Homo sapiens: one gene and its partners. The protein of the gene in region 1 interacts with the protein of each later gene in a biochemical or structural test. Each region holds a gene or a part of one and is shown in the gene's direction. Other genes may lie near its edges.

The links.
Region 2: the proteins of ERCC6 (region 1) and ARPC1A form a complex in vitro, tested with the Homo sapiens proteins (one large-scale study listed by BioGRID).
Region 3: the proteins of ERCC6 (region 1) and SENP2 form a complex in vitro, tested with the Homo sapiens proteins (one large-scale study listed by BioGRID).
Region 4: the proteins of ERCC6 (region 1) and SUPT6H form a complex in vitro, tested with the Homo sapiens proteins (one large-scale study listed by BioGRID).
Region 5: the proteins of ERCC6 (region 1) and IWS1 form a complex in vitro, tested with the Homo sapiens proteins (one large-scale study listed by BioGRID).
Region 6: the proteins of ERCC6 (region 1) and IARS2 form a complex in vitro, tested with the Homo sapiens proteins (one large-scale study listed by BioGRID).
Region 7: the proteins of ERCC6 (region 1) and CLIC4 form a complex in vitro, tested with the Homo sapiens proteins (one large-scale study listed by BioGRID).

What each region holds. Positions count from the first base shown.
Region 1 is NC_000010.11:49,469,010-49,473,208, reverse strand, and holds part of ERCC6 (DNA excision repair protein ERCC-6), read left to right. Parts: intron 1-180; coding exon 181-300; intron 301-738; coding exon 739-833; intron 834-2,088; coding exon 2,089-2,234; intron 2,235-2,319; coding exon 2,320-3,027; intron 3,028-4,199. UniProt on the Homo sapiens protein: Involved in repair of DNA damage following UV irradiation, acting either in the absence of ERCC6 or synergistically with ERCC6. Involved in the regulation of gene expression.
Region 2 is NC_000007.14:99,328,460-99,332,658, forward strand, and holds part of ARPC1A (actin-related protein 2/3 complex subunit 1A), read left to right. Parts: intron 1-4,199. UniProt on the Homo sapiens protein: Probably functions as a component of the Arp2/3 complex which is involved in regulation of actin polymerization and together with an activating nucleation-promoting factor (NPF) mediates the formation of branched actin networks.
Region 3 is NC_000003.12:185,620,338-185,624,536, forward strand, and holds part of SENP2 (sentrin-specific protease 2), read left to right. Parts: intron 1-1,488; coding exon 1,489-1,568; intron 1,569-3,660; coding exon 3,661-3,745; intron 3,746-4,199. UniProt on the Homo sapiens protein: Protease that catalyzes two essential functions in the SUMO pathway.
Region 4 is NC_000017.11:28,685,889-28,690,087, forward strand, and holds part of SUPT6H (transcription elongation factor SPT6), read left to right. Parts: intron 1-450; coding exon 451-527; intron 528-765; coding exon 766-901; intron 902-1,199; coding exon 1,200-1,337; intron 1,338-1,415; coding exon 1,416-1,583; intron 1,584-2,202; coding exon 2,203-2,330; intron 2,331-2,800; coding exon of another isoform or gene 2,801-2,846; exon of another isoform or gene 2,847-2,951; intron 2,952-3,465; coding exon 3,466-3,673; intron 3,674-4,193; coding exon 4,194-4,199.
Region 5 is NC_000002.12:127,523,361-127,528,187, reverse strand, and holds the start of IWS1 (protein IWS1 homolog), read left to right. Parts: upstream 1-1,698; 5' UTR 1,699-1,979; coding exon 1,980-2,013; intron 2,014-4,396; coding exon 4,397-4,512; intron 4,513-4,827.
Region 6 is NC_000001.11:220,092,277-220,097,058, forward strand, and holds the start of IARS2 (isoleucine--tRNA ligase, mitochondrial precursor), read left to right. Parts: upstream 1-1,855; 5' UTR 1,856-1,940; coding exon 1,941-2,207; intron 2,208-3,827; coding exon 3,828-3,950; intron 3,951-4,782.
Region 7 is NC_000001.11:24,841,671-24,845,057, forward strand, and holds the end of CLIC4 (chloride intracellular channel protein 4), read left to right. Parts: 3' UTR 1-2,651; downstream 2,652-3,387. UniProt on the Homo sapiens protein: In the soluble state, catalyzes glutaredoxin-like thiol disulfide exchange reactions with reduced glutathione as electron donor. Can insert into membranes and form voltage-dependent multi-ion conductive channels.

The sequences.
Region 1 (4,199 bases):
AAATATTAAAAGTAAAAGCTGTGAAATGAGATTTTGATTCACCAGAGGTCTCTAGGACATTACCATTCCTTATATTGGGAACAGCCCAGTAATTCCATGTGTACAATATGTGGAGGCAGAGGCTGAGAACTGTAACTGGTCTTAAGTGTGTGTGCTCAGTGTTGTGTGTCTTACCTCTAGGACACATCCATATTTGTGTTTCTTCTGACCACGCGGGTGGGCGGCTTAGGTGTCAACCTGACGGGGGCAAACAGAGTTGTCATCTATGACCCAGACTGGAACCCAAGCACGGACACGCAGGTTTGTTTTTATTTTTTTTTTAAAAGAATGTATTAGTAGAAATATAGTTTCATGGTTAGCGCTTTTGACTGTCCTTTGATGTTCTGGTTGGCTTCAGCATACGTTTCACATTTTGATTGTCTCCTGTTCTTCAACGTGAAAGAAGACACCCTTCAGAGTCAAATGGACAGGAACCATCTTCAGCAGTTTATCCATAGCATTCATTCCTAGAGTTGGGGTAAAAAGAACATAGGCAAAGTTACAAACATTTTTTCAAGTAGAGATGTCTTTTCAACTGGCTGTTCATCTTCCTGAGTAGGCCTTAGGTGTACTTGACGTCATGAGTCAAAATTCTAACTCTGGGAGTGACAGGTAGTGACCAGCTAGCTTTGTTTCTTATAGTCAGTGCTTGTCATTGGGAAGGATTCTCGTTGAGAGGTCTCTCTCTCTCTGTTGCAGGCCCGGGAGCGAGCATGGAGAATAGGCCAGAAGAAGCAAGTGACTGTGTACAGGCTCCTGACTGCGGGCACCATTGAAGAAAAGATCTACCACCGGTCAGTGCACACAGTGGCCACTCTTGGCTGTGCGTTCCCAGAGTCTTGAGCAGGGAATTTTTCCAAAGTGTTGTTTTTAAAAGTCTTAACATCTTAGAATAATAGTTGCTATAACTTAAGGCTTTGGTTTTTGTTTTGTATTTTTTCTTTCCCTTTAAAATATGCTTAGATGTCTTACTGTGAGTTGTCAAAAAATGTCTTTGAACCTGATAATTTTTGTACCTTATTCTACCTCAAGAATCACATACATGTAAACTTCATATTGTTATTTGAAAGGAATATTTCTGCCTGCTATGGTGTGTTGCCTTCAGAAAAATTTTAAAAAATGACAAGGTTGAATGTTACCATATTGGTGTTTACATACCACATTATGCAGGTAGGATCAGTGTGGGTGTTCTGGCAGTCTTTGACTCTGATGCCCCTTACAAAGAAGTCGACAGGATGGCTGTTTCGTCCTCTGTCTTTCCATAATGACTAGGGGATTTTAGACAGTGGTAACTTCAACAGTAGAATCAAGACATTGCCAGCTTCTCCCACTCCCCCACCACAGACTTTATCCTTGAGCCATAGCCCAGCTTTTATAGGAAGCTCTGTGCCCTTTACCACATGCTGGGCCATTCCTGGAACATTACATCTTCCTCGAGGGAGTGTTGTGTGAGGGTGGAGGACGAGTTGGATCCTGTGAGAAGAGAGCTTCCTTTTATAGATTCATGCTTTAGCTGGGAGAATAAATGACAGGGAGGGACAGGGTGGCTGGTGGAGGTGCCTGTTCCAGAGTGGCAGTGGTGTGGGGCTTCAGCAGAGTGTGGACCTGCAGGTGGGAGCAGGGAGAGAGAGGTCAGAGTGGAGACATTGCAAAGCCCAGGTAAGAGAGTTTGCTGAGCCCTATGATAGGAAGGTTCTAGGCAGGGCAGGACCCTTGGTATTCAAGTCAAGGAGGCTAAGAGAGACTATGAGTCACATGATGGCATGTGAAAAGGTGTTTCTTGAAATGTGTTAGATCTTGGAGGTTGAAAAAGCTCATTCGGTGTAAATAATAAGGTATTATTTCTAATTTAAATTCTGCAAGACCTGGGAGATTAACTGATGTATTATATATTTCCTGAATTGTAATTTTCCAAGGCTGAAAGTTTGGGGGATTATTTAGCCATTCATGCAGCAGCTGTTATCATCTCTCTCTTATATTGCTTTATAACTTGAATTTTTAGGTAGAGCTACACATTGTTTTATACCAGCTTATCTTTTATTTTTTTAGACAAATCTTCAAGCAGTTTTTGACAAATAGAGTGCTAAAAGACCCAAAACAAAGGCGGTTTTTCAAATCCAATGATCTCTATGAGCTATTTACTCTGACTAGTCCTGATGCATCCCAGAGCACTGAAACAAGTGCAATTTTTGCAGGTATTACATAAAATCATTTAATTTAAAGTAATCAATTGCACAAGATGATACAATATAGTATTAGTGGTGTTTTTCCTCTTTACAGGAACTGGATCAGATGTTCAGACACCCAAATGCCATCTAAAAAGAAGGATTCAACCAGCCTTTGGAGCAGACCATGATGTTCCAAAACGCAAGAAGTTCCCTGCTTCTAACATATCTGTAAATGATGCCACATCATCTGAAGAGAAATCTGAGGCTAAAGGAGCTGAAGTAAATGCAGTAACTTCTAATCGAAGTGATCCTTTGAAAGATGACCCTCACATGAGTAGTAATGTAACTAGCAATGATAGGCTTGGAGAAGAGACAAATGCAGTATCTGGACCAGAAGAGTTGTCAGTGATTAGTGGAAATGGGGAATGTTCAAATTCTTCAGGAACAGGCAAAACTTCTATGCCATCTGGTGATGAAAGCATTGATGAAAAGTTAGGTCTTTCTTACAAAAGAGAAAGACCCAGCCAGGCTCAAACAGAAGCTTTTTGGGAGAATAAACAAATGGAAAATAATTTTTATAAGCACAAGTCAAAAACAAAACATCATAGTGTGGCAGAAGAAGAGACCCTGGAGAAACATCTGAGACCAAAGCAAAAGCCTAAGAACTCTAAGCATTGCAGAGACGCCAAGTTTGAAGGAACTCGAATTCCACACCTGGTGAAGAAAAGGCGTTACCAGAAGCAAGACAGTGAAAACAAGAGTGAGGCCAAGGAACAGAGCAATGACGATTATGTTTTGGAAAAGCTTTTCAAAAAATCAGGTAATCCATTTGATACGTTTGCCACAGGGATGCTAGGATTAGAAAATGAGTAGGCTGTTTCTAGCAGTAGCAGTCTTTAACTGATGGTGCATAGAGGGCTGTCAGCCATTAGTGTTTTTCTTCAAAAATTTAGATTTGAAATATATTGACATTTTAAAAATCGTATTTACACCTCTTTTCTGAAGACCTAGAATAATTTGAAACTTTGGAAAACAATAGTACTTATGGCCACTCATGGGAGGTGTGCAATTCTTAAATCGATGTGTACTACCTGAACATTAGTAGGCAGTTACTTTACATGCTATATGCTACATTAATCTGATTTTCCAACCACAGGAGATTAAAGTAACATCATAAGGGAGAGGGACAAGCGTGTGGCTAGAGACAGACATTCTAGAAGTATGAAAGCTGATAGCTTATGTCAAGGGAGAAAAGTTAGGAGATGTAGACTCAACAATTGCTCAAGACCATGGAGTATATAGATAGCCCTGCTTAGTGATCCCTTAGCAGTCACTGTGTTCACAATGTGATGGCCTTGAGTTACCAAAGATTGCTGCTTATGGTACTCAGTTTAAGAAGGCAGGTTTATGTGTAGCATTTCAGAAAGACTTTTATTTAGCATGGTTAATTTTTTTGTTAATTTCATATTTTGAAGTAATTTCAAACTTAAATCAGTTGGGTCTCAAAAAAAAATCAGTTGGAATAATACGAAGAACTCTCCTATATCCTTTATCTAAGTTATTAACATTTTTCAGCTTTTGCTTTATCATTCACACACACACCCATCTATGCATACATTTTTTTTTTGGTAGGAATGCCACAGAGGTGATACCGTATCTTACTCAGTGCATCTATCAGGAGACACATGCTGGTTTGACCTATTACAAGTTGATTTTTAAGATCACTTGGTTAAGGTGGAGTCTGCCAGGTTTCTCAATGCTAAGGTTAATATTTTTACCTTTGTAATTAATTTGTGCTTTCAAGGAATATGCTTTGAGACTGTGTAAATATCCTGTTTCTCATCAAACTTTTATCCACTAGTTTTAATATCTATTGATGATTCTTTCCTCAGTCAGTTATTACTACAATGGTTGCCAAATGGTGATTAACATTCTATTGTAAGGAAGGTTTTCCTTCTCTCTTATTTATTTATTAATTTATTTTTAGATCAG
Region 2 (4,199 bases), on another chromosome or scaffold:
TCATTTAATTCTCCTTGTGATCTCAGTGGTATATCCACTTTACAGAAGAAAAAAATGAGATTTAGAGATATCAAGTGACTTGCCCAGGGTTTCATAGCTAGTGTGTGTCAAAAGCCAGGGTTCAAACCCAGCCTCGGCTTCAGAGCCCATGGCTAGCCATACATCAGAATGACTCTGTACTCAGTGATAGATAAAGAAAAGGGGTGGGGGCCGGGCATGGTGGCTCATGCTTGCAATCTTAACACTTTGGGAGGCTGAAGTGGGCAGATCACTTGAGCCCAGGAGTTTGAGACCAGCCTGGACAACATAGGGAGACCCCTGTCTTTACAAAAAACTAAAAAATTAGCAGGGCATAGTGATGCATGCCTGTGGTCCCAGCTACTCAGGAGGCTAAAGTGGGAGGATGGCTTGACCCTGGGAAGCCGAGGTTGCAGTGAACTGAGATCACACCACTGCAGTCCAGCCTGGGTGACAGAGCAAGACCTTGTCTGAGAAAAAAACTCAGAGAGAGAGAAAAGGGATGAGGGGGGAGGGAGGGAGGAAAAGAAAAGGGATGAGGGGCAGGGCGCGGTGGCTCACGCCTGTAATCCCAGCACTTTGGGAGGCCGAGGCAGGCGGATCACGAGGTCAGGATATCGAGACCATCCTGGCTAACACGGTGAAACCCCATCTCTACTAAAAATACAAAAAAATTGGCCGGGTGTGGTGGCGGGCCCCTGTAGTCCCAGCTACTCGGGAGGCTGAGGCAGGAGAATGGCGTGAACCCGGGAGGCAGAGTTTGCAGTGAGCCGAGATCGTGCCACTGTACTCCAGCCTGGGCGACAGAGCGAGACTCCGTCTCAAAAAAAAAAAAAAGAAAATAAAGAAAAGGGATGAGGAGTTCCTGGCATTTTTATTTGTCCCCTTTTCTCCCTCTCTAGCTCTATTAAGACAAAGCTTTTCAGATTTCACTTAAACATTAACCATAGTTTAGAAATTATAATTATCACCCTATGACAGAAGGTACCCTTTCTTGGTACATAATTCAAGCTATTAGGAATTTCTTCTGCATTCACTGGGTTTCATGAATGCAAGTGGTGTTTGCTAGGTGCATTCTAAATTTGACAAACATGAGTGTTGTCTTGGCCTGCAGACTTAAAATAGCCACCTGATTATAAAAGAAGTACAGGTCTTAAGTGTATGTCCAAATATGGAACTTGAATGATATGGCAAAATTAGAAATGCAATTTTAGAAGTAATTACACTGTTGTGTAAATGGCCACCTCTTTTGAAGTCTTTGCTACATTGCTTATAAAACACTGAGTTGAACATGAGAAAGCCTTTTGTCTGCAGCTGTACTTTTCAACTGGACATGAACCATGTACTTTTATGGCACGTAGATATTCACATCAAATTTCTGATTTGCAGACCGATTTTATTTTTAGTTAACAAATAAGCTTATCAAATGTGGCTTTTGAACTAAAGCGCTTTTAATTAAGGAGTTATAACAGCATGTTATTTTGAGTAGCTGTTACTAAAATCTGTTGTGATGGAACAATTTGGAGTGAGCATCTGATATCAGAGATAAAGAGAGAAGCATGCAGTGAGCATCTGGAAGTTCTTGTAAAAAAAAAAAACAAATTAAACATTCTCATTTGAATGCATTTAAAATTTTTTTAAATTGCCAATTCCTAAGCTTTTTCTTTGTTAGTTGTAGTTTGCTTTCTCGACTGTATAAAAGAAAAAAGTAATGACTTAACTATCTTCACTCTTAGAATAGAATATGAAATGCTAGCATTTCTCTGCCAGTTCAAGGTATCAGATGTTTTTTATTTAAAGTTGCACTTACCTTTGGGTTCCCCCCCCCTTTTTGTTTGTTTGTTTGTTTTGTTTTGATACAGAGTCTCACTCTGTCACCTAGGCTGCAGTGCAGTGGCACCATCTTGGCTCACTGCAACCTCCGCCTCCCATGTTCAAGAGATTCTTGTGCCTCAGCCTCCTGAGTAGCTGGAATTACAGGTGCCTGCCACCATGCCCGTCTGATTTTTGTATTTTTAGTAGAGATAGGGTTTCGCCATGTTGGCCAGGCTGGTCTCGAACTCCCGACCTCAGGTGATCCGCCCACCTCGGCCTCCCAAAGTGCTGGGATTACAGGCTTGAGCCACCATGCCTGGCCTGGGTTCCTTTACAATTAGCAGAGGTGCTGCTTCTGCTTTCTGAGACTGATTTCTGCTTTGTCAGCTGAACTTTCATTGTTCACTTTACAACCTTCTAGTGGCCCTTCCATTCATTTCCTGCTTGCATCAGAATTCATATCTCACATTTCAGCCTCCACCCAAGGTTAACATGACACATACTTACGTGTGTTGAAACTTGAGTTTATTGTGAGGGTGCCTCCTGGAAATGATAAAGTTGGGGGTAGAGGAAGGCTGGCTGCTTTTTGAAAAATGTTCCCATTTCAGTTAATGGTTGCTTCTTCAAGTGTATCTAGATTTGGGTACCTATAAAATAGAGAATTTTTAATTTAATGTTTTGCAGATTCCTGCTTTTCATTTAGTTACAATTAAAAGTTTAAAAAGTATTATCACAAACGCCTACATACTCTTTGCCTAGATTCACCAGTTAGCATTTTGCCACATTCACATTCTATATATTTTCTGTCCTGAACTATTGAAAATAAGTTACAGTGGCTGGGCATGGTGACTCATGCCTGTAATCCCAGCACTTTGGGAGGCTGAGGCAGGTGGATCACTTGAGCCCAGTCAGAGCAGCCTGGGCAACATGGTGAAACCCCATCTCTACAAAAATTACCTGGGCTTGGTGGTGCATGCTTGTAGCCACAGCTACTCAGGAGGCTGAGGTGGGAGGATCACTTGAGGCCAGAAGACGGAGGCTGCAGTGAGCATAGATTGCACCACTGCCCTCCAAACCTGGGTGAGAGAGCAAGACCCTATCTCCCCTGCCCCCCACCCAAAAAAAGAAAAGAAGTTACAGAAGACATCATGATACTTCATCCCTGAACACTTCATCATTATCTTTGTCTCCTAAGAGCTAGGACATTCTCCTATCTAATGGCAATACCGTTATCACACCTAAGAAAATGAAAATAATTCCATATGTAATATCTAGTTTAAATTGTAATTTTCCCTGTTATACAAAATACATCTTTTCTGCCCATTTTTTAAAATGTGGATTATGGGCCAGGCACAGTGGCTCACACCTGTAATCTCAGCACTTTGGGAGGCTGAGGAGGGCGGGTCACTTGAGGCCAGGTGTTCAAGACCAGCCTGGCCAACATGGTGAAAGTCCATCTCTACTAAAAATACAAAAATTAGCTGGGCCTGGTGGTGCACACTTGTAATCCCAGCTACTCAGGAGGCTGAGGCAGGAGGATCACCTGAGTCCAGGAAGTGGAGGTTGCAGTGAGCTGAGATGGTGCCACTGTACTCCAGTCTGGGCAACAGAGTGAGACTCTGTCTCAAAAAAAAGAAATTATATTATAATCAACTTTCACTTATCAAATTTGGTTTTCATAGCTCTCTAGAACAGTTCTCATCCTGCCTCCATATTGCCTTTTTGGAATAGTCCAGGCCAGTTCTTCTATAGAATGGCACACACCCTGGCTTTAACTGTTTATTTCCTCCTTGTGTTGCTTGACTAGTTCCTTTATCCTTTATTTCTTGTAAACTGAAAATTAGATCTGAATCTTGATTGGATTTAGAGTAAATATGTTTGGCATAGAGACTTCATTGGTAGGTTGACCATATTCCCAGGTTTCTCCAGGATAGCCCTGTGACCTGTTGTGTTGGCATAATTATTATTTATTTTTGCTCTCAGAAGTGTTCTGGTTTGGATGGTACGTTAAGTCACTATTTATAAGTGACGATGTGTACTTCATGTGGACTGCCATCAGGAGGCCCATCCAGTTAGATTGATCCACTATTTATAACATGGTGATTACGTGGTGATTGCCAGATTTCTTCAACGTAAAGGCATCTTTTTCTCTTTGTAGTTAATAAGCAATCTGTGGGATGATAATTTGAGACTAGGAATATCCTGTACCCATGGTTTAAGAGTCCATTGACGACCCTGAACAGAATAAATTCCACATTAGTTGTTACAATGCTAGATTTATTCAGATGGTTAAGTTTTGACAATGAGATAGATTTTTTTTTTTTTTTTTGAGACAGAATCTCACTGTGTCGCCCAGGCTGGAGTGC
Region 3 (4,199 bases), on another chromosome or scaffold:
GAATGATGGGTGAGATGCCGCACCTGGCCTCCTTTTTAGTTCTTGAGTTGAACAACTTTTAGAAGGCTACAGGACGAAGTCCTTGTACTTGAGGAGCTTTTTTTTGTTTGTTTGTATGTTTTTGAGATGGAGTCTTGCTCTGTTTCCCAGGCTGGAGTGCAATGGCACGATCTCGGCTCACTGCAGCCTCCGCCTCCTGGGTTCAAGCAATTCTCCTGCATCAGCCTCCTGAGTAGCTGGGATTACAGGCACGTGCCACCACCATACCTGGCTAATTTTTGTATTTTCAGTAGAAATGGGGTTTTACCATGTTGGTCAGGCTCGTCTTGAACTCCTGACCTCGTGATCCGCCACCTCAGCCTCCCAAAGTGCTGGGATTATAGGCGGGAGCCACCGCACCTGGCCGAGGAGCTTTCATTTTTAACAGGAAAGAGTCTTAGTATGCATAAGGGTTATTTATATTTATTTAGTTTTGTTTACAAGATAGTACAGGTTTATTGCAGAAAAATGCATTTATAAGGCCAGGTGTGGTGGCTCATGCCTATAATCCCAGACTTTGGGAGGCTGAGGCAGGAGGGGTTGCTTGAGCCCAAGAGTTTGAGACCAGCCTGGGCAACATGGAAAGACCCTGTCTATACAAATTTAAAAATTTGCTGGGCGTGGTGGTGCACACCTGTGGTCCCAGCTTTGTGGGCATGGTGGTGCACACCTGTGAGAGGCTGAGGTGGAAGATTCCCTGAGCCCAGGAGGTCGAGGCTGCAGTGAGCCGTGATCACACCACTGCACTCCAGCCTGGGTCACAGAGTGAGATCTTGTCTCAAAAAAAAAAAAAAAAAAAAAGAGAGAGAGAAAGAAAGAAAAGAAGGAAAGAAAGATACAGATATAAAGAAAGCAAAAAAAAAAAAAAAAGTCTCATCACTCTGAGAGGACCACTAATTTTTTAACTTAAAAACACACTTTTTTTACTAAAGATACGTAAGACACATTTTTAACTAAAAAAAAAAAAATACATGTACCAATATAAGTGGATATCGTTTTTCTTTTTTTTCTTTTTTTTTTTTTTTTTTTTTTTGAGACAGAGTCTCGCTATCACCCAGGCTAGAGTGCAGTGACACAATCTCGGCTCACTGCAACCTCTGCCTCCCGGGTTCAAGTGATTCTTCTGCCTCAGCCTCCTGAGCAGCTAGGATTACAGGCGCGTGCCATCATGCCCGACTAATTTTTGTATTTTTAGTAGAGACGGGGTTTCGCCATGTTGGTCAGGCTGGTCTCGAACTCCTGACCTCATGATCCGCCCGCCTCAGCCTCCCAAAGTGCTGGGATTACAGGTGTGAGCCACCATGCATGGCCCATAAATGGATTTCTAAGATACATAAAAAATTTATATTGGTACATGTATTTTTTAAAAGATGCTTTTATTTTTGGAAGTAAAATTCTCACTCCTCTTACATTTAAGATGTTTCTGGATGTTATCTTTTTCCATTATAGGTGATTGACCTAAGAAAAAAGTGTCTTAAATATCTGGATTCTATGGGACAAAAGGGCCACAGGATCTGTGAGATTCTCCTGTAAGTAAAGGTTGAAAACCTCACTACCCCCTGTTGAGGTGATCTCTCTTTTATCTCATCCTAGGAAGCTGTGTGGATGGTAGTCTAATGTGTAGTTAAGGCTATTTCAGGACTTAGCATGCATTTTATTTTTAAAATAATAGCTGATTTCAACTGAGAAAACGTGTTTAGTAGCATCACTGGAAACAAGTTTGTCATGTATTATGATGTAAAATAGATCTTATTAGAATCCTGTGACTTGCATTAGATTTCTTTGGCATCGATACGTTATTCTGAATGTTCTTAGGAACTGTTAGTTGGGGAGTGCTAGTCCTCTCAATTCTTAAGCCCATTTGTATCTTTATGCTTTCCATGAGAGTTGGGTTTATCTCAGAACCCAGGGGCAGTGTTTAAAGTGTGTGGTTTGAGGAGACTGTTTCAAATAGTAATTGCTATAATAGAAACCAATCTTTAAAGCATACCTACTTCTTAGCTAGGTAAAGTAGTGACATGAGTTGAGTGAGAAAACGCATCAGTAAGATGGGTCCATTTTTCCTTTTCTGCTCACTAGAAGCAATGAAGTTCCTTCTTTTAACTTTACTAAGGACAAATGAATCTTGTGAAGAAAAGTTGTTGCTAACAATAATATTGTTTTAGTATAAAATATTATTTTTATTTATGGTTGTTTATCTTGAATAAAAAGCATAGAGAAGAAAATTCTAAAAATCATAAGATACACCAATTGTTTATAAAATGGTTCTCTTCTAGTCTTTTCTTTGTAAGATGTGTATAAATTGTGCGCACATACATTTGCATTCATATGTATACATATATTATCCCATGTATAGAAATGTTCTTACTGGGATCATACAGTATAGTTTGATGTGCTGCTTATACCAGGATTTGAAAATTCATACTTTATTACATTCATGCTTTTTTTTTTTTTTTTTTTTTTTTGAGATGGAGTCTCATTGTGTCACCCCATGCAGTGGTGCAGTCTCAGCTCACTGCAACCTCTGCCTCCTGGGTTCAAGTGATGCTCGTTCCTCGGCCTCCCAAGAAGCTGGGAGTACAGGCTTCCGTCACTATGCCCGGCTAATTTTTGAATTTTTAGTAGAGACAGGGTTTCTCCATGTTGATCATGCTGGTCTTGAACTCCCAACCTCAGGTGATCCGCCCGCCCCAGCCTCCCAAAGTGCTGGGATTACAGGCGTGAGCCACCGTGCCCGGTGGTCTTTGGCTTTTTATGTTATTTATTTATTTGTTTGTTTTTTGAGATGGAGTTTCACTCTTGCTGCCCAGGCTGGAGTGCAATGGCGTGATCTCGGCTCACCGCAACCTCTGTCTCCCGGGTTCAAGAGATTCTCCTGCCTCAGCTCCCAAGTAGCTGGTATTAAAGGCTTGTGCCACCACGCCCGGCTAATTTTGTATTTTTAGTAGAGATGAGGTTTCTCCATTTTGGTCAGGCTGGTCGCAAACTCCCGACCTCAGGTGATCCATCCGCCTTGGCCTCCCAAAGTGTTGATATACAGGCGTGAGCCACCGCACCCGGCCTATGTTATTTTTTGTATCTTAATTTTGGTGGGGGCATCTAATGCTTATCAACCTGATATATATTTCAACTTTTAAAAACAAGCATGTACAATTTTTATAAGCAGACCTCCCCAAATTAAATAAAAAATCCAGAAAGCCACTTTGGGAGGCTGAGGCAGGCGGGATCACAGGCTCAGGAGATCGAGACCATCCTGGCTAACACGGTGAAACCCCATCTCTACTAAGAAAAATACAAAAAATTAGCAGGGCGTGGTGGCGTGCTCCTGTGGTCCCAGCTACTTGGGAGGCTAAGTCAGGAGAATGGCGTGAACCCGGGAGGCAGAGGTTGCAGTGAGCCGAGATCGCGCCACTGCACTCCAGCCTGGGCGACAGAGCGAGACTCTGTCTCAAAAAAAAAAAAAAAAAAAAAAAATCCAGAAAGCAGTCACGTTTTTAAAAAGCTAATGAATATGGATTTGAGAATGGCATATCTGTTTAACATCAGAAAGCCCTATGTAACCATAATGGTTAATTTCTTTAGGGATTTATTGATGTATTCCTTCTTTGTTTTGCTTTTTAGTCAGTATTTACAGGATGAAAGTAAGACCAAAAGAAATAGTGATCTGAATCTTTTAGAGTGGACCCATCACAGCATGAAACCACACGTGAGTGACGATCATCTACATGTGACATACTTGGTTGCATTTACTAATAGTATATTATCTAGATTTGGCTCCCTTCCTGCCCTTCCTCCCTCCCTGCATGCTTTTAAAGTACACATCTTTTTTTTTCTTTCTTTCTTTTTTGTAGAGATGGGATCTTGCTTTGTTGCCCAGGCTAGTCTCGGGCCTCCCAAAACAAAGTGCTGGGATTACAGGTGTGAGCCACCATGCCTGGCCAGAGTCTACATCTTAAGAATGATCTGCTTCTAAATCTCTAGCAATTAATCTAACTAAAATGGGTGCTTAGCTTTCATCTTCTTGTCTAAATGTAAATATTAACATATGCTTGCATGTCTCTCACAGAATTGGGAAGAAACCCAATACATTGAAGTTGGCTAATTTCCCGGTTGGTGCTAATGAAAGTTTACATTTCTTTTCCAAAATTTGGGAGTTTGTT
Region 4 (4,199 bases), on another chromosome or scaffold:
GAGTGTGAGGCAGTGGAAAGTAAATCATAAGAAACTGGACATCTTTAAGATGAAGGAAATCATACTTAACCATGTTGACCTTTTCAAAGGGCCCTCACCCAAAAGAGGGCAGCTACTAGTTCTTTGTTTTGCTTCATCAAAACTAGAACCAATGGCTAAGTATTAGATTTTGGTTTACAATAAAAAAGAACGGTTTCCTAACTTCATCCTTGGGACCTAGCCAGTGGCACCTGGTACCACTGGAGCGCAGTTCTAGTCAGTGGAATTATTAAGCAGAGGCAGGGTTGGCCAACTTTCAGGAAGAGGTGGGAATAGTTCCTTGGTAGCACCTTGGACCAGATATCTTCTGAAGACTTCCAGTTCTTACAAGATCTCCAACATAGGGAGACAGAATTTCCTGAAATCTTTACATCCTCAGAGCCATTCAGCTTCAATTTTCTTTCAATCCAGGCTCAAGACATTGAAACGCTAAAGAAATTTCTCCTGAATAAGAAGCCTCATGTAGTGACAGTTGCAGGAGAGAACAGGTAGGTAGGGATTAGACCACACCTGGTTTAAGGCCGTGACCCAACTCATCCCTTATTATTGAGTCTGGCATATGCCCATAACAGATGGGGCTTGTGCTTGTGCAGGGAGTGTCCCTGGGGATGTTTGACCTCATTTTCTTCAAAGCCCTTTCCTCCCCTACCTCTTCACCCCCAAGGCAGTCATGAGACTGTCCATCCCTAAGAAAACATATTCATTGACCAACACTCATCCCACCAGGGACGCCCAGATGTTGATTGAAGATGTGAAGCGCATTGTACATGAGCTGGACCAGGGCCAGCAGCTGTCATCTATTGGGGTAGAGCTGGTTGACAACGAGTTGGCCATTCTCTATATGAACAGCAAGAAGTCAGAGGTAATGCTGGAGCCTCACCCTTAGGGCCTGCCCAGGCAAGTGCTATTAATCCCAAAGAGATTAAATTGGGAAACAAAAGTTATCAGGGGCACAGGACTGTACCTGTGTACTTATCCATGCAGAAGTTCTCCGTTTTGCAGTTACGGTTCAGATTGGGAGTCCCAGAAATTAAATCGGTCTCAGGAAAAAAGATCCCAGAGAAGCAGAGAAAATGATTTAAACCAGAATGGTTTGGATTTCCTCTTGATGTTGTAGCTAAGGGGATTTTAAGGCCCTGCTGACCCTCGTTTGACTCTAGGCAGAGTTCCGGGATTATCCTCCAGTGCTGAGACAGGCCGTCTCCCTGGCCCGGCGCATCCAGGACCCTCTGATTGAATTTGCCCAGGTGTGCAGTTCCGATGAAGACATCCTGTGTCTCAAGTTTCACCCCTTGCAGGTGAGTAGGATTTGACAGGCAGGCTCGGGTGAAGGGAAAGGCAGAGTAACCTTACTCCTGCCTGCTGAATGTCCACAGGAGCATGTGGTGAAAGAGGAGCTGCTCAACGCCTTGTACTGTGAATTTATCAACCGAGTCAATGAGGTCGGGGTCGATGTCAACCGTGCCATTGCCCACCCTTACAGCCAGGCCTTGATCCAGTATGTTTGTGGCCTGGGACCTCGGAAAGGGACCCACCTCCTGAAGGTAGGATTGGAGTGAATTCAGAAATTTTAAAACTTGCCATTTCATTGAATATGAATATATACTTTGTCAGTATAATTTGACAGATTGGGAGGACCAAGGTCAGTGACTTGTCCAAAATCACTCAGCTAGTGAGAGTCAAAAGAGTCTGACTTCAGACCCAGTTGGCCAAAGCTGTGCCCTTCACTGCTGCTTGCACCACCACACCCAGCTAATTTTTTGTATTTTTAGTAGAGACGGGGTTTCACCATGTTGGCCAGACTGGTCTCAAACTCCTGACCCCAGGTGATCCACCCGCCTCAGCCTCCCAAAGTGCTGGGATTACAGGCATGAGCCACTGCGCCCGGCCAACTAGTGTTAACTTGTAACTTATAAGCCATACATTAGTTGTATATGGTCTTTGGTGTAGGTATAACATCATTTATTTGTTTATTATTTTCCCATTTAAAGCAAAACTTTTTTTTTTTTTTTTTTAATTTTGAGTGGTCGATAGCATGCTGTAGTGCTCAACTAGATACTGGGTGGGACAGAGTTTTTGTTATGAGGGTTTAATAGAGACTGGAACAGTCTGGGGAGGTGGGGCCTGCTTACTGCCCTGGCTCAGTCCAGCTCTCTCCCCCAGATCCTGAAGCAGAACAACACCCGGCTCGAGAGCCGGACCCAGCTGGTCACCATGTGCCACATGGGTCCCAAAGTCTTCATGAATTGTGCTGGCTTCCTCAAGATCGACACGGCCTCCCTGGGGGACAGGTGATGCCCTCTGCCTGGATGGGGCAGGAGGAATTCCCTTGTGGGCTTTGTTTTCGGGTTTCAGGGGTTAGGGCTATCAAAGGGCCACAAGCCATTTTAACTTAGGAAATGTTTTAAAGAAAAGGTAAGGAACTTTATTCAGTCAAGAGCCCCTGACCTATGGAAAAGATCGGTTCAATCATGTGAAACATTTTTCGTGTGAGAGAAACATAAAAAGTACCAGCTTAGCTTATAAATTAAGCATGGAAAACACAAGATTTTGTTCAGTAAACACAAACTTGCTTTTTTATTATTATGGTTTGTTGTGGCCAGATAAGGGTGGGAATAGCGGGGGCAATGAAAAAGGAGTTTGGGGGTATAAAGAGATAAGGAAGGGGGAGAGAGATTTGGTATGTTTTGAGATGATGTTATTAAGAGAAAGTTCTATTCACTTGGACTTTGGACTTCACTATTGACCTCTTCCTCTCCAGAAGTTATCAACTCAGTCTTTGGAGGATCTTTTCCACGGGCACATAGCTCCTCATTCAGTAATGGAAATCAGTGGGGAAATAGGCTTCAAGTTCTAAAACTTCATTTTCCACTCAGCTTTGCTGTAACACTCCACGAATAACATAGGTCCATGTGAGTGCACGGGCAAGACCAGCCTGGGAAGGCTTTATGGGGGAAAATAGCTATCAGCAAATTTTCAAAGGTTTTTTTCCCCTTTCTTGATTTATCTTATTATGAGACTCATATAAGTTCATCATATAAAATTCAACATATAGAAATATTATGCAGAAAGTGGAAGTCCCCCATAATCCCACCCCCCAGAGATAACTACCATAACAATTTTATGTATACTACAGTTTTTCTAAATTTTATTTTTGCTATGCATTTACTAACTACCCATTTACTACAAAAATGGGATCATATGGTTCATAGTGTTTTTGCAGTGCATTTTTCACGTATCAATATATTGTGGCCATCTTTCCATGTCAGCACACATAGATCTACCTCATTCTTGTTAATGGCTGTATAGTATTCCATTGTATGGAGGTGCCCTAATTTATTTAACCAGTTCCCCATTGGTGGACATTTGGGTTGTTACTAGAAGCTTATCGTTCTATATCCTGTTCCTTTTCTGCCTTTCCTCCAGCACTGACTCATATATTGAAGTCCTTGATGGTTCCCGTGTCCACCCTGAGACTTATGAGTGGGCTAGGAAGATGGCAGTGGATGCCCTGGAATACGATGAATCAGCCGAGGATGCCAATCCTGCAGGAGCCCTTGAAGAAATCTTGGAAAACCCAGAGCGACTGAAAGACCTGGACCTTGATGCCTTTGCAGAAGAGCTGGAGAGGCAGGTAAGGGACAGCATGGAAGGCCCGGCAGGAGAACCCATCCCAAGTGGCCAGGTTGGTAGGAGACTTGGGCAGTGAGTGTGCAGAGAAAGCCTGATACTGTTAGTATGGCAGACTTGATCCTCATCTCCCTGCCCTGCTCTACTGGGCTCCTCAAGGAAGTTTTTGGTCTGCTTGTTAAGGAGCCAGGGAAGTCTCAGAGATTGCCACCATAATTACAAGGGGCAGGAGGGAGTTGGGAGGATGTCAGTACTACAGTTTCCGTCTAGGCCCCCTTTCCTCCTTTCTAACAGCACAGCTTTGCATTTATCTGTGGACTCATTGGGGTTCCATAAAGCATTTTGATTACAGTGTTTCATGGCTAAGTTTGAAAACCACCTTTAGTAAATGTTGATGGAAAGAAAAGAAGAAGCCCTGACAGAAACTTACTCCCATCTGGAGAGGCCCGCCCCTTCCACGGGACTCCTTGAGGCTCAGGTTGGGGGGCAGCTGCAAGGCTCTTCTTGATGGGCTTCTTCCCCAGGGCTAT
Region 5 (4,827 bases), on another chromosome or scaffold:
CTATCCTTTCTCCAAACCACCAGTACAGTTAGTTTTAACGCTAAAATTCAGTAATTTTCATCCGGCAATTGCATTGTTTATAACCCAACCACTTTCCTGACTGTTGGACTTACATCTCTGGTGAAACTAAAAGGTTCTCTTCCACTGAACCTCCGCCTGGAATTTTGATCTATTAATCCTGCTCCATTTACACAGGTGTACTCTCACCTTCTCTTTAGAAGAGGGCTTAGAGCCTTGATATCTTCTATCAAGTGATTCGGTTTCGGGCATTGCTAATTCTTTGTTCTTTTGATTCTCAAGACTGCCTGAGAAGATGTCATTCCCACAGCTGAAAAGAAGGAATTTGGATTCAATGCTGTTTCCACCACTTCGGAAAGGAATATCCATGAACTCTCTTGCAGGAAAATGGGAATTTCCAGAGAGAAACCACTTCTCCCCTTTCTTCTCTTCCCACGTCCTCTTCAGGAGCCTATAATTGGGCTCTGCCAGCATACTCTGACTGGCTAACGAAGGGTCAGATATCTGCAGTAGTAACAAAAGGCTCTTTTTCTACATGTCTACACCTCCTGGGGAGTCTTTGCTTAAACCTCTACTGGCCCTCCTCCGATCCAAAGGCAAGAATGTTCCCCTCTCTGTCCAAGACTAAAATGAACAAGTAAGGAAATGGATTTTACTCAGCCTATTGCAATAGGGAGAGCACTCCAGATATGATCAGTGTCTTGGCAGCGTAGTTTTGACTTTTATAGGGAGGAAGGTGGGATGATTGACAGTTGGGATTGTTTTGCAATCAGGAGAAGTTTCAGTCAGGTGAACAGGAAATGTTCTCTGTGTCTAACAAGTTGGGGGGAGGAGAGTTCTAATCTCAACTAATCACTCGATATCATCAGCGGGAATTTGGAAGGTCTGTTTGGCTTTATTAACAGGCTCAGAATAAAGGGGAAAGGTCTCTGGCCTTGTCACAGGCAAACAAGGGGGTCATCTGCACGCGTTTTATCTGAGTCACATGGAGACGGGTGGTTCTTTACAGTGTGCCGTTCCAGAAACACAAATAGATGAGGGGGTTTCTTAATCACCGCTGTTTTCCAGGAACACAGGGCTCAGGTAAAGTTCAACTTCACCTTCCTCCGGTGTTTCATCAGGGGAACCCTTCTGGAAGCAAAGACGTGTACTTCTTACTGTTGGCTAAATGGCTTCTTAACAAGGAAATTAAATCGTTGTTTAGAATGAAAGAGAGGAAGACGCCGGGAGAGGAGGCGCTGTGGATCGCGCCAGTTAGTAACGCATCACAGCTCGCGGGCGTCATACTACAAGTCCCAGTGAGCAACGCCCGCTTTCTTGCCTACTGCGGGCGGGAACCAGGCGCCTCTGGGCCTGACGGGAAAGACAGTGGTTTGGCTGAATGACGGAAAAGTCATTTGAGCAGGTCTTCATTTTTCGGAAGAGTATCTCAAAAGCTCTTCAAACAAGGCACGGACACAGAATCTAGGAAATGATAAAGAATCAATGATAACGTTATTACCACGGGGGTCAGACCAGGATCCACCCGAGGAAGGTATTTAACTAAAGCCCGAGTTCCAGCTCAATTTTCCCAGGAGTCTCCTTTCCGGCCGTGCCTGGCGTCATTGCTGTTGCGTCTTCTCATTGGCCGGTTGACGGGTTGCGGCGCCTGCGCGCTGCATTCCTTTGAGGGTCGTGGGCAGACGCCATTTTGGCCCCAGCGGTGCTTCTAGGAAGTAGAACGCCGGCTCGCATGCCTGCCCGCCCGCCAGCCTGCCGGGTACGGCCTTTTCCGCCGGGGCTTCCAGGTCAAAGAATTCGCCTTTGCCGCTACCGCTTTCTTACCCTCCGCACCCGTTAAGTTCTCCGGTCGGGCGGCAGTCTCTGAACACTTAGCCGCGCCATCCGGGGTCACACCGCCTGGAAGGAGGTGACGGGGGCGGCGCGGGGCGCGGACACTCCCCGCTGAGAGTCCGCCTGCCATGGACTCGGAATATTACAGCGGCGACCAGTCAGGTGGGGCAGGGACCTGGGGGACCGGGCTGGGAGGCGGAGCAGTTACTCGGCGGGGCTTGGCCTGGCACCCCGCGGGTGGGGGCAAGGAGGCCCCCCGAAACCTTCCCTCCCGCGACCCGGCCCGAGGAGGGCAAGAGCCCTCTGACCAGCTGCAAGCGTCGAAGCTAGAACGTTGGAGAGGGGATTCTGGTGGGAAAGCTTTCTTCTGAATCGGCGAAGGTTTTTGCTGAAATTGGGAAGTCACTTTCATATGTTAAGCTCCTATTGTGTGCAGGGAAGGAGAGGTGTCTTCTGTTAAGAGAGTTTTCAGTAGTTGAGTAGTTGGAGAATCCAAGGGGCGTTGGGGCGGGGGATCCTTCCTAGACTTTTCACTGCTAGTTAGGAGTGGTTTAATCTTGCTTGCAACACCGGACGTAAGTGCAGGACCCATGTTTCAGTTGCATGCATAGAGTAAGGAATGCGCTTCTGGCACTTACTGGTGGTTTTTGTGCCTTTCCTCCACCTTGAGATCGTTCCTCTTCCTCCTCACCGAAGTTTGGTCTCCTTTCTTTACTGTTTGTTTATTCTGTAAGCTGTTACTGGGGCCCACTCTGCTGGCACGGTGCTTGGCACCTGAGATTAAGGATAAGTGAGGCAGAACCTGGTGTGGGAAACACGTCGCATTTGCTTTCCCTTTGTGTGCTAGTCCTGTTGGGGCGTTCTGTTACAAAAGTTCTTAAATACACCATAAATAAATACACCCTCTATGTACCCACAAAAATTGAAAATTAAAAAGAAAACTTGAGTGCTTAAATAATTGTTTAAGCGTTAAGCCCTTTACTGTTTTGAGTTCATTGCTTTTCCTTACGTAGGACAGTGAATTCTAATGACTGCAAAGCGTTTTCCAGGCATGCACTGCTTAAAAACACTTTCCTAAGCCAGGTGCGGTGGATTATGCCTGTAATCCCAGCACTTTGGGAGGCGTAGGCGGCCGATGGCTTGAGCCCAGGAGTTCGAGACCAGCCTGGGCAACATAGTGAGACCAACACCACCCCCACCCCCCATGCCCGTACCCCACCCCCCTACGCCCCTACCCCACCCCCCTACTTCGTCTCTACAAAAAAATGCAAAAATTAGCCGAGTGTGGTGGCATACACCTGTAGTCCCAGTTACTCAGGAGGCTGAAGTGGGAGGATCCTTTGAGCCCTGAGCCCGGGAGGCAGAGGTTGCAGTGAGCGGAAGTTGCACCACTGCACTCCAAGCCTGGGCGACAGAGCAAGACTCTGTCTCAAAAAAAACAAAAACAAAAACAAAAACAAAAAAACACTTTCCTGATACTTTCAGAATAGTTTTTTTTCCATTCATTTGTGTTTTTAAGTTACTTTTTAAAAAGTAGACCGAGCACGGTGGCAAACACCTGAGGTCAGGAGTTTGAGACCAGCCTGGCCAACGTGGTGAAGCCCATCTCTACTAAAAATACAAAAAATTAGCCAGGCGTGGTGGCGGGCACCTGTAATCCCAGCTACTCAGGAGGCTGAGGCAGGAGAATCACTTGTTGAACCCGGGGGGGTGGAGGTTGCAGTGAGCTGAGATCACACCATTGCACTCCAGCCTGGGCCAAAAGAGCAAAACTGTGTCTCCAAAAAAAAAAAAAGTAATTATATGTAATACATGTATATAGGTTAAAATACGATTTTACTCTGTATTTTTTAAAGTATTGGGGCTGGGTGTAATCCCAGCACTTTAGGAGGCAAAGGCAGGAGGATTGCTTGAGGCCAGGAGTTTGAGACCAGCCTGGGCAACATAGCAAGACCCCATCTCTACAAAAATATAAAAGAAAGTTAGGTAACAGTTTGTATTTACCATTTTATATATGCTTTTCTTGAATGGATTTTCACTAGTTTTGGACTGGAGTTCCTTGTGTTCTTCATTTGTAAACAAATACTTACTGTATATCAGGTACTAGGCAGTGTTCTGGGCTCCAGAGATTTAGCAGTGAACCAAAATCCCTATTCTTGTGGCATTTTCTTTCAGGTGAAGAAGACCCACGTTAAACAAAATAACTTCAGGTAGTATATTAGAAGGTGATAAATGCCATGGAGAGAAAGACCCAATTTTAACATGAAGTTGAAATAAATTGTTGACTTGGTGTTTAGTGTTGTTTCTTAAGCTACAAATTGTTTTTATGGTGTAGTTTTGCTGCCACGTATTTCACAGTACATGTTATGCTTGTTGGTGTTTGTATGAGTATTGTATTACCTTATTCAAAATATTAGCAACTTTAGTTAATGCTTCCTCAGTGGTAACTTTTGCACTTACGTTATTCTTGATTCAGTGTGTTCATTTCACTGTAGATGTCATTCATCTTACACCATAAGTTGGTTTTTGTTTTGTTTTTAATCAGATGATGGTGGTGCTACCCCAGTACAGGATGAACGGGATTCAGGGTCAGACGGTGAGGATGATGTAAATGAGCAACACTCCGGATCAGACACTGGAAGTGTAGAACGTCATTCAGAGGTATTGGCTAACCAACATCTTTGGGAGGGCTTTTCCCTTGCGTTCTGTGAGATCTGTTATATTATAGGAGTTACAGAATCTCTGTGACAGAGTTTAGGGTTTAATCTCTGAGAGTAAAGGAGCATAAGTTAATAGAAAACCGCTTGAAAAATAAATAGGGATGGTCTGGTTACTGTTGAAATCACAGTGAAATATGTTCTGATTGGGTCACATTTCAAATGTTAGGCAGTTTTCAACTGTGCATATTGATTCAGAAAATGGGCCCGGCCTTTGATATTTGACTAAGTTTCCCTATTCTGCAATAATGTCATAGTG
Region 6 (4,782 bases), on another chromosome or scaffold:
AAAGTTGAGGATCTTTTTATGTTTATTAGCTGTTTCCACTTCTGTGTCTCTGAGTTGACTGTTCATTTCTTTTGCTTTATTATTATTATTTTGAGACAGGCTCTCACTGTGTTGCCCAGGCAGGAGTGTAGTGGTGTAATCATGGCCCACTTGCAGCCTTGACTTCCTGGGCTAAAGCGATCCTCCCACCACAGCCTCCAAAGCAGCTGGGACCACAAGCACATGCCACTACATCCAGCTAATTTTAAAAATTATTTCAGAGATAGGGGTCTCCCTATGTTGCCCAGGGTTGTCTCAAACTCCTGGGCTCAAGTGATATTTCCACTTCAGCCTCCTAAGGTGCTGGGATTATAGGCATGAGCTACTGTGTCCAGCTTCTTTTATCCTTTTTTTTTTTTAAATTGGGTTGTTTACATTTGTTTTTTTGATCTGTAGCAGCTCTTTATGCATTTTGTGTATTATTATTTTTTAATGTGTAGCAAATGTTTTCTTCCACAGTATAGTGTAGGAAAGACAACATAACATGGTGGCTATGCACACACACTGGAATCTAACTGCCTGGGTTTGAATTCCAGCTGTGCTACTTAGTTGTATCATCTTGAGCAAGTTACATAATTCTATGTGCCTCAGTTTCCTTAGCTGTGAAATGGAAATACTCATAGTTCCTATCTCACAGGTTTTTTTGGTATGCTGTGTCTTCACCTCATCTGGTTTTGAAGATTAAGTGAATTAATTCAGGTACAGAGCTGGAGTCATTGATTGGTGAAAGGCTGACATTGAGTGCTTTCTGTTTGTCACTTGGTTTCTCACTTTCCGGTATCTTTTTTTGGTATATATATGTTTTCATACTTGTAGAAAATCTGTCCTTCTTATTTATGTGAACCAAATGTTCTGGATGTTGTGTTTTATGATTAGGAAGGCTATTCCCAAGTTGTATACTCAACAATGAAATGGTAACAATTGTGAACTATTATGAACTGGACAACCAAATAGAGCAGAATCTGTCAGAAACAGGAGCAGAAGTTGCTATATATACCATACTATTCTATGAGTGGGATATAACAGGGATTTCAGAGAATCTTAAAAAAAGGTTAGATTGTTTTATAATATTGTTAAAATCTATGGGAAGTCATTGATTTGGACTGAGCTCCTGCACTAGGCTGTTTACTTGTAAGGTCTGCGTTCCAGGAAATCAGGAGAGATGATAGCCAAATCCATTAAGCCAAATGGCGTCTGCTTTTCGTTCCCTGTTTCTGCCTTCTTCAACCTTTTCTGCCTATAAACCTCACCCTGCCCCCACAGCTCATCAGAGATCCTTTCTATTTTGTAGAAAGGTTTAGGAATATTTAATAATAGCCAATTAGATCTTTAAAACTCGATTTGCTGAAATTTTATTATTTTACAATATTTTCACTGAACTTGTGCTGCCCACAGTCGTAGTCATTACCCAAGTGTGCCTGTTGAGGCCTTGCCATGAGTTTAGCCCAGATTGAGATGTGCAGTATGTGCAAAGTACATGTCAAATTTCAAAGGCTTCGTATGAAGAGAATATGTAAAATATCTTACTTTTTATTGGCTACATGTTAAAGTGATACAATCATAGCTATGTTGTGTTAAAGTAAAAAAAAAAAAATATATATATATATATATTTAAAAAGCAGGGCACAGCGATTGGACTATGAGCCCCACCTTTCCCCGCCCCCGTGAATCTGAGCCCGCCCCCCGGCGGCTGCAGGGAGGACCCGGAGGTGGCTCAGCCTCCGCGGACTCCGGGAAGGCGGTGCCCACCGCCCCGCCCCCACTACCCGCCGCTCCCTCCCCGCCCCTTCCGCTCCCGGAGCGCGTGCGCCCTCTTACTCGGCTCCCCTTGGTTTCCTGGGGTCCTGCCCCTTCAAGCTGGGGCGGGAGCGGAGGACCCCGCTCTCAGGGGTTGCCGGACCATGCGTTGGGGGCTGCGCCCTCGCGGGCCGGGCGCGGCCGCCCTGGCCACTGCCCGAAGTTTGTGGGGGACGCCCCGCCTTCCCTGCAGCCCGGGATGGCAAGGGGCGACGAAGAGGCTTCTGGTGCGGTCGGTCTCCGGGGCCAGTAACCACCAGCCGAACTCGAATAGTGGCAGATACCGGGACACGGTGCTGCTGCCGCAGACGAGCTTCCCCATGAAGCTGCTGGGCCGCCAGCAGCCGGACACGGAGCTGGAGATCCAGCAGGTACGGGCCCCGCCTCGGCGCGGGGCCTCCAGAGAGGCCCGATCCGGCCGCGGGCACCGGGCGCTCGCAGGCGCCACACCTCTAGGCTCCACGCCGGTGCGGGTGGGCGGGGGTGTGACCAGATTGGTGGAATTCGTCTGCTTCGCACAGATTTTGTGGGCTGAAAACCTAAGTGAAGAAATCTCTAGATGAGCCCCTCCTTTGTACCAGGTTCTGGAGCGGGACATTAAGGGGTCACTAGCGATGCCCAGTTACCAGCATGTATCGCACGTATGTCCCATGTCTACCGTAGGCAAAACAGATAGACTTTGGGCACTTTTCCAATGCCTTGTAAAAAGTAAATTCACATGTCCACATGTAAATAAAAACCCAGGCTGGGCGCAGTGGCTCACGCCTGTAATCCCAGAACTTTGAAAGGCCAAGGCGGGAGAATCGCTTGAGCCAAGAGTTCGAGACCATATTGGCTAGTCACCCCCACCCCCCCGTCCTTAAAAAAAACCTTAAAAACCTCAATTATGATGAATGAAGGGGAAGTTGAAGCCCACTTCTTGGATCTTTTAGATCCCTAGTTGGAATTATGACTCGTTTGAAGTCGCCCAGGCTGGAGTGCAATGGCGCGATCTCAGCTCACTACAACTTCCGCCTCCCAGGCTCAGGCAATTCTCCTGCCTTAGCCTCCCCAGTTGCTGGGATTACAGGTGCGCACCACCACGCCCGGCTAATTTTTATATTTTTAGTAGAGATGGAGTTTCACCATGTTGGCCAGGGTGGTCTCTAACTCCTGACCTCAAGTGATCTTCCCGCCTCGGCCTCCCAAAGTGCTGGGATTACAGGCCTGAGCCACTACGCCCAGCCTAGTCTGAACTTTCTAAGAGCAGAGATTCCTCTTTAGCTTCTGTAATTCTAGTCTTTAAAAATCCCTGATATTCTTGGAATATTGGTTAAGTAAATATACTTAGCCTAAATATTCTGACAGTTATAAGAGTTCATCTAATTTTTTAAAGGTTTTTTAGTCAATACCTTCTGTATGCCAGAAAGAGTGACAGTTTCAAATGTTTCCTCGTTTAATCTTCACACCAGCCCTGTAAGATGGATATTAACACTTTTTTTTTTCAGATAAGAAAGCAGGCCCGTAAGTGCACAGTAACCTGGACAAAATCATACAGCAAGTGAGGGAAGGGAAGTGACTTAGACTGCCATGCATGTTGTTCCCAGATTTGGGGAATGGCAAGCATTGCCGCCAAAGAATAGCAAGAATATGTGTGTCGGGAATCTGCAGGTCCTTCAACATGTCGGGGGTGAGGAGTGAAGCATGGGGAGTGATGAAAGAATGCCCGAGAACTTAGTGGCACTAAACCTTTGTAGGGTGCTGCATATCATATAAAGAGTTTAGACTTCAATCTGAGGTGTATGGGGACATTACTGAAAGATTTTAAGAGATGCGTACTTTGACACGCATTTCAGAAACCTCACCTTGTATTTCAGAGTTGAGTAGATTGGAATGGAATAGATTGGAATGTAATTGGAATGGAAATAAGCAAGTGTTGGCTGTTATTTATGGTTAGACTCAGGAGTATGTATTTATATGATGTTTAGATATCTTTTTTTTTTTTAAAACAGAAATGTGGATTTTCAGAACTTTATTCATGGCAAAGAGAAAGAAAAGTAAAGACAGAATTTTGCCTTCATGATGGACCTCCTTATGCAAACGGTGACCCTCATGTTGGACATGCTTTAAATAAGGTAACTATAATTTAGGTTATGACACTTGAAAGAAAGTGTTTATGTAAATACTCTTTATAAATGTGTATTCTAATTATATGATAATTATGTAAATTTAGATTTGCACATAAAACTAAAACATTTTCATAGAAAGCAATATACAATTTTAGTACTGCATAAAAAAAATTGCTGCTATTTGCTTTGAGCTTAACGTTATATTAGTAAACATCATCTTATTCAGTGCATAATTATCGGGCGAGGCATTGTTCTAGAATCTGGGAATAGCAGTGGACAAAAAAAAGGTATGTCTTGGCCGGGCAGTATGGCTCATGCCTGTAATCAGTGCTTGGCCCACAGATATCAATAATTCATTATTTTTAAAATGCTTAGTAGAATTTCATTGAGAGAATATGTTAATACTACAATCTGTTCACTCATTTTTCAGTTCTTTATTTTTTGTAGATTTCAGTGGAAATTTTGGGGAGGAAGTGGGCTTAGGCATCTGTAGTTTCAAAACCAGGAATTTGGTCACTGAATGGGTCAATAGTGCTATTAAAGAGACCAGGCGCAGTGGCTCACGCCTGTAATCCCAGCCCTTTGGGAGGCCGAGGCAAGCGGATCACGAGGTCAGGAGATCGAGACCATCCTGGCTAACACGGTGAAACCCCGTCTCTACTAAAAATACAAAAAATTAGCCACGCATGGTGGCGGGAGCCTATAGTCCCAGCTACTCGGGAGGCTGAGGCAGGAGAATGCCGTGAACCCGGGAGGCGGAGCTTGCAGTGAGCCGAGATCGCGCCACTGCACTCCAGCCTGGGCAACAGAGCAAGATTCCGTCTCAAAAAAAAAAAAA
Region 7 (3,387 bases), on another chromosome or scaffold:
AAGAGAAACTGATGGGCACCTGATACTCTGTCTAAATACGTTTGTTATATGTGTTTTGCCCTGTGCCATTCATTTGGAACTTTATTGCATTCTTTATTTTAAAAAGCTTGTTTTTACGTAATCATAGAGCTTGCTATTTGTACATCTGTTGAGCAACACTACATAACTGATTTTTAGTTGACTTAGCTATAGCAGTACAATGATTAGTAATGTAAAAATTAACACAGAAATTAACCTAAGGAATGAAGGGTGGGTTTGTCAAAATATCAAGTAAATTTTTGTTTCTAAAGTACATTTAATGTAGATGACCTAAAGAATGCGTTATCCATCCTATATAAAAGAAAGATAAAACACAGGTCACCAATTTTCTCATTTCACCCCATTTACCTTGTATAGAGGATTGTTCATTCCTTTGGGACTAAGTTATAGTTATGGTGAGTGTGTATTTACTGTAGTTTTGCCTGATCTCACTCATTGCACTTCCTGGAGTTAAATTTTCCAACAGCCATGTTGAGGAATAGCACTCTGCATGTTTTTGTTTTGTTTTTCGGGGTTTTTTTTAATTGAAGCCCTAAACCAGGAATTATTTGTGTTCTAACAGGAGGATGAACTTGCTGAAAATAAAACTTTGCTATGTATTTACTCTTTTTTAAAAGACAAAAGCAAAACCAGACTTTCTACGTACTACTCCAAAGACTGTGATTGTGACTATAATACATTTTTGGTAATTTTTTTATACCTAATTTGTATAGGAAGTGCTATTTCTCATAGGCTGTTTCTTGAAATTTTAAGTTTATTGCTTTAAAATGGCAGTGTTTCTCCCACTTTGATATGCTAACATTTAGTAAGCACTGGCTTTATGAAAGCGGCTTTTTATAAGTATACTGCATTTTTTGAGCCTATCATTAATTAGCTTAGTATGAAAGATAAGAAAATCTCCATGTTGTATCCATTTGGCTCAGGAAGATTCTTTGCCTTACCTTTCTTAGAACTCTTTATTGCTTATCAAAAGTTTGAGTACCCGCTTGGTTTTTTTTTGGTAATTAAATATTGTATGATTTATCTGGTTCAAGGAAGATGCACTATTCAGTTATCTATTGAGAAATTATTTTGCAGTGGTTTTAGTGGGTGAAAATGTCCCATCTGCACCAGTACACAGGCAGGCATTATCATTCTTCACCTACTTTTTAAATAGTGGCAACTTGGGATTCATTCTGGTGATTCTGAACCTTGCCTCATAGCTTAAAGTATAAAAAAGATTCAAGAGCAGTGAGGTTTGTTCTTTCCAGTGAATGGTGGACTGAGTGGTGCGAGGTGGAGGGCTAACAAGAGGAAAGAACTACATTCTTCAGAATACAGTGATGAAAATTCATTTTGAAACTCAAATATTTTCATTTTGGATATTCTCCTGTTTTTATTAAACCAGTGATTACACCTGGCCATCCCTCTAAATGTTCTAGGAAGGCATGTCTATTGTGATTTTGATGAAGACAGAATTATTTTTCTCTGTAGAAACACAGATACCACTTTATCAGGGAAGTTAGTCAAATGAAATGGAAATTGGTAAATGGACAAAAGCTAGCTAGTAAAAAGGACGACCCAGCAACATGCTTTAACCCCATTGTATGTTTGTGGAAAGAGCATAGTTTAACATCTTGAGAAATTTGGGACATAAAGTTTTCATGGTAGACAGTTCATGCAGTATATGAATTGCCATAATGGAAATAATCTGATTTTATTTTTACAACTAACATCCATTCCCCTTCATTTAAACACCTTTTGTGTTTTACTTCAGTGAGGAGATTGGAGTCTGAATGGATCTGTTTTCCAAGAGATTCTGAGAAATTTTTGTATTCAGCAGTTGGAAAGCTCTCTATTCTAGTTGATAAAACTTCCCTTTTTTGATGTAGATGCAGATATTCTATACAGTTCTGTTGTCTTTTACTAGGACTGTAAACTTTTGTGATAAAATTCAAATAAGATTTTATTTCTTGGTAATTTTGGCTTTCACAATTTATCTTTAAATCCTTGAGCAATCTGTATACAATTAAGAGATTTCTGACATTTATTCTTACACTAAATGGATCAACTCTAGGATTTAGGCATGTTAACTTCTGTTGTGTTTTGAATCTCTCCAGAGTTGCATGTAGATAGCATTTATTTCTGTGCCCTTAAACCCATTTAGAAAATAACTACAAAGTAAAAATGTAGAGGAAATAGAAATGTATTTTTTCATGAACATTTTGATACAAATTTCATCATTTAATGATTCACCAATTTCTTGCATTAATTTGAATTTAAGCATTTAATTCAAAGAGAGGGGAGCATCCATTATTGATACATGTGGGCTTTTAAAAACTCCATCCTTTATAAATAGTCAAGGTTTGGGCCACACAAAGTATATTTTTATCATGGAAAAATTTCAACTCCTCAAGCCGTAATGTTGAACAGAATTGGAGTATTTTCTTTATAATTTCTTGAACAGGCAAATGAAAGCTTATTATAGAATGCATGTATTTTCTTTTATCTTTGGAACATCAGCACCAGTATATTGCTGGCAGCTATTGTATTAAAAAATAAAGTATATTTTCACTATCATAAAGGATTCTTTTTTCCCCCCTCATGAAAATAAACAACAACTTGGGGTAAAAGTGTTTGAGACTACTATTTTTTTTTCTATGAGTGATTCAGCACATTTAATAGGTTAAAGGAGAAAAACCATAGGATCATTTCAATAGGTACAGAAAATAACTTGATTAAAATATTCATGCTACTCATTCTTAGCAAAATAGGTAACTTTTTTTTTAACCTGATAAAGACTTTTATTGAGAACCTATAGCAAATGAAACAGAAGCGATCTCGTTAAAGTCAAGAATAAGACAAGGTTGCCCTCTATCACAGCTACTATCCAGCTACTTTAACAGCTACTTTATTTAGAGATATCCTAGCCAATGCAGTAACATCAGTGAAAGGAATAAAGAATGGAAAAGAAGCAACAAAATGACTGCCCTTTGCAGGTAATGATGTTGATGGTGTGTATGTGTATAAAATCCAAAATAACTTACAAATACTAAAAATAATTCAGCTGGATTTCTAGTTGCAAGATCGAGGAACAAAATTTAATATAACTACTATATACAAATAGTAAGCACATTGAAAGCCAATAGAGAAATTGGTAACATTGGTTTTTTTCTGGAGGAGAATTGGGTGCCTGAGGTAAAGGGGTGGGAAATTATCAATGTATACTTTTAAGTTTTTAGAAATTGGTAAATATATTACCTATTCTAATAAACAAAAAGTGCTTTAAAAAACGAATAAAGATCCTAAGTGATTGAGGATCAAATCAAACAATGTGCAATTCCTAGCCAAGCATGGTGGCTCATACCT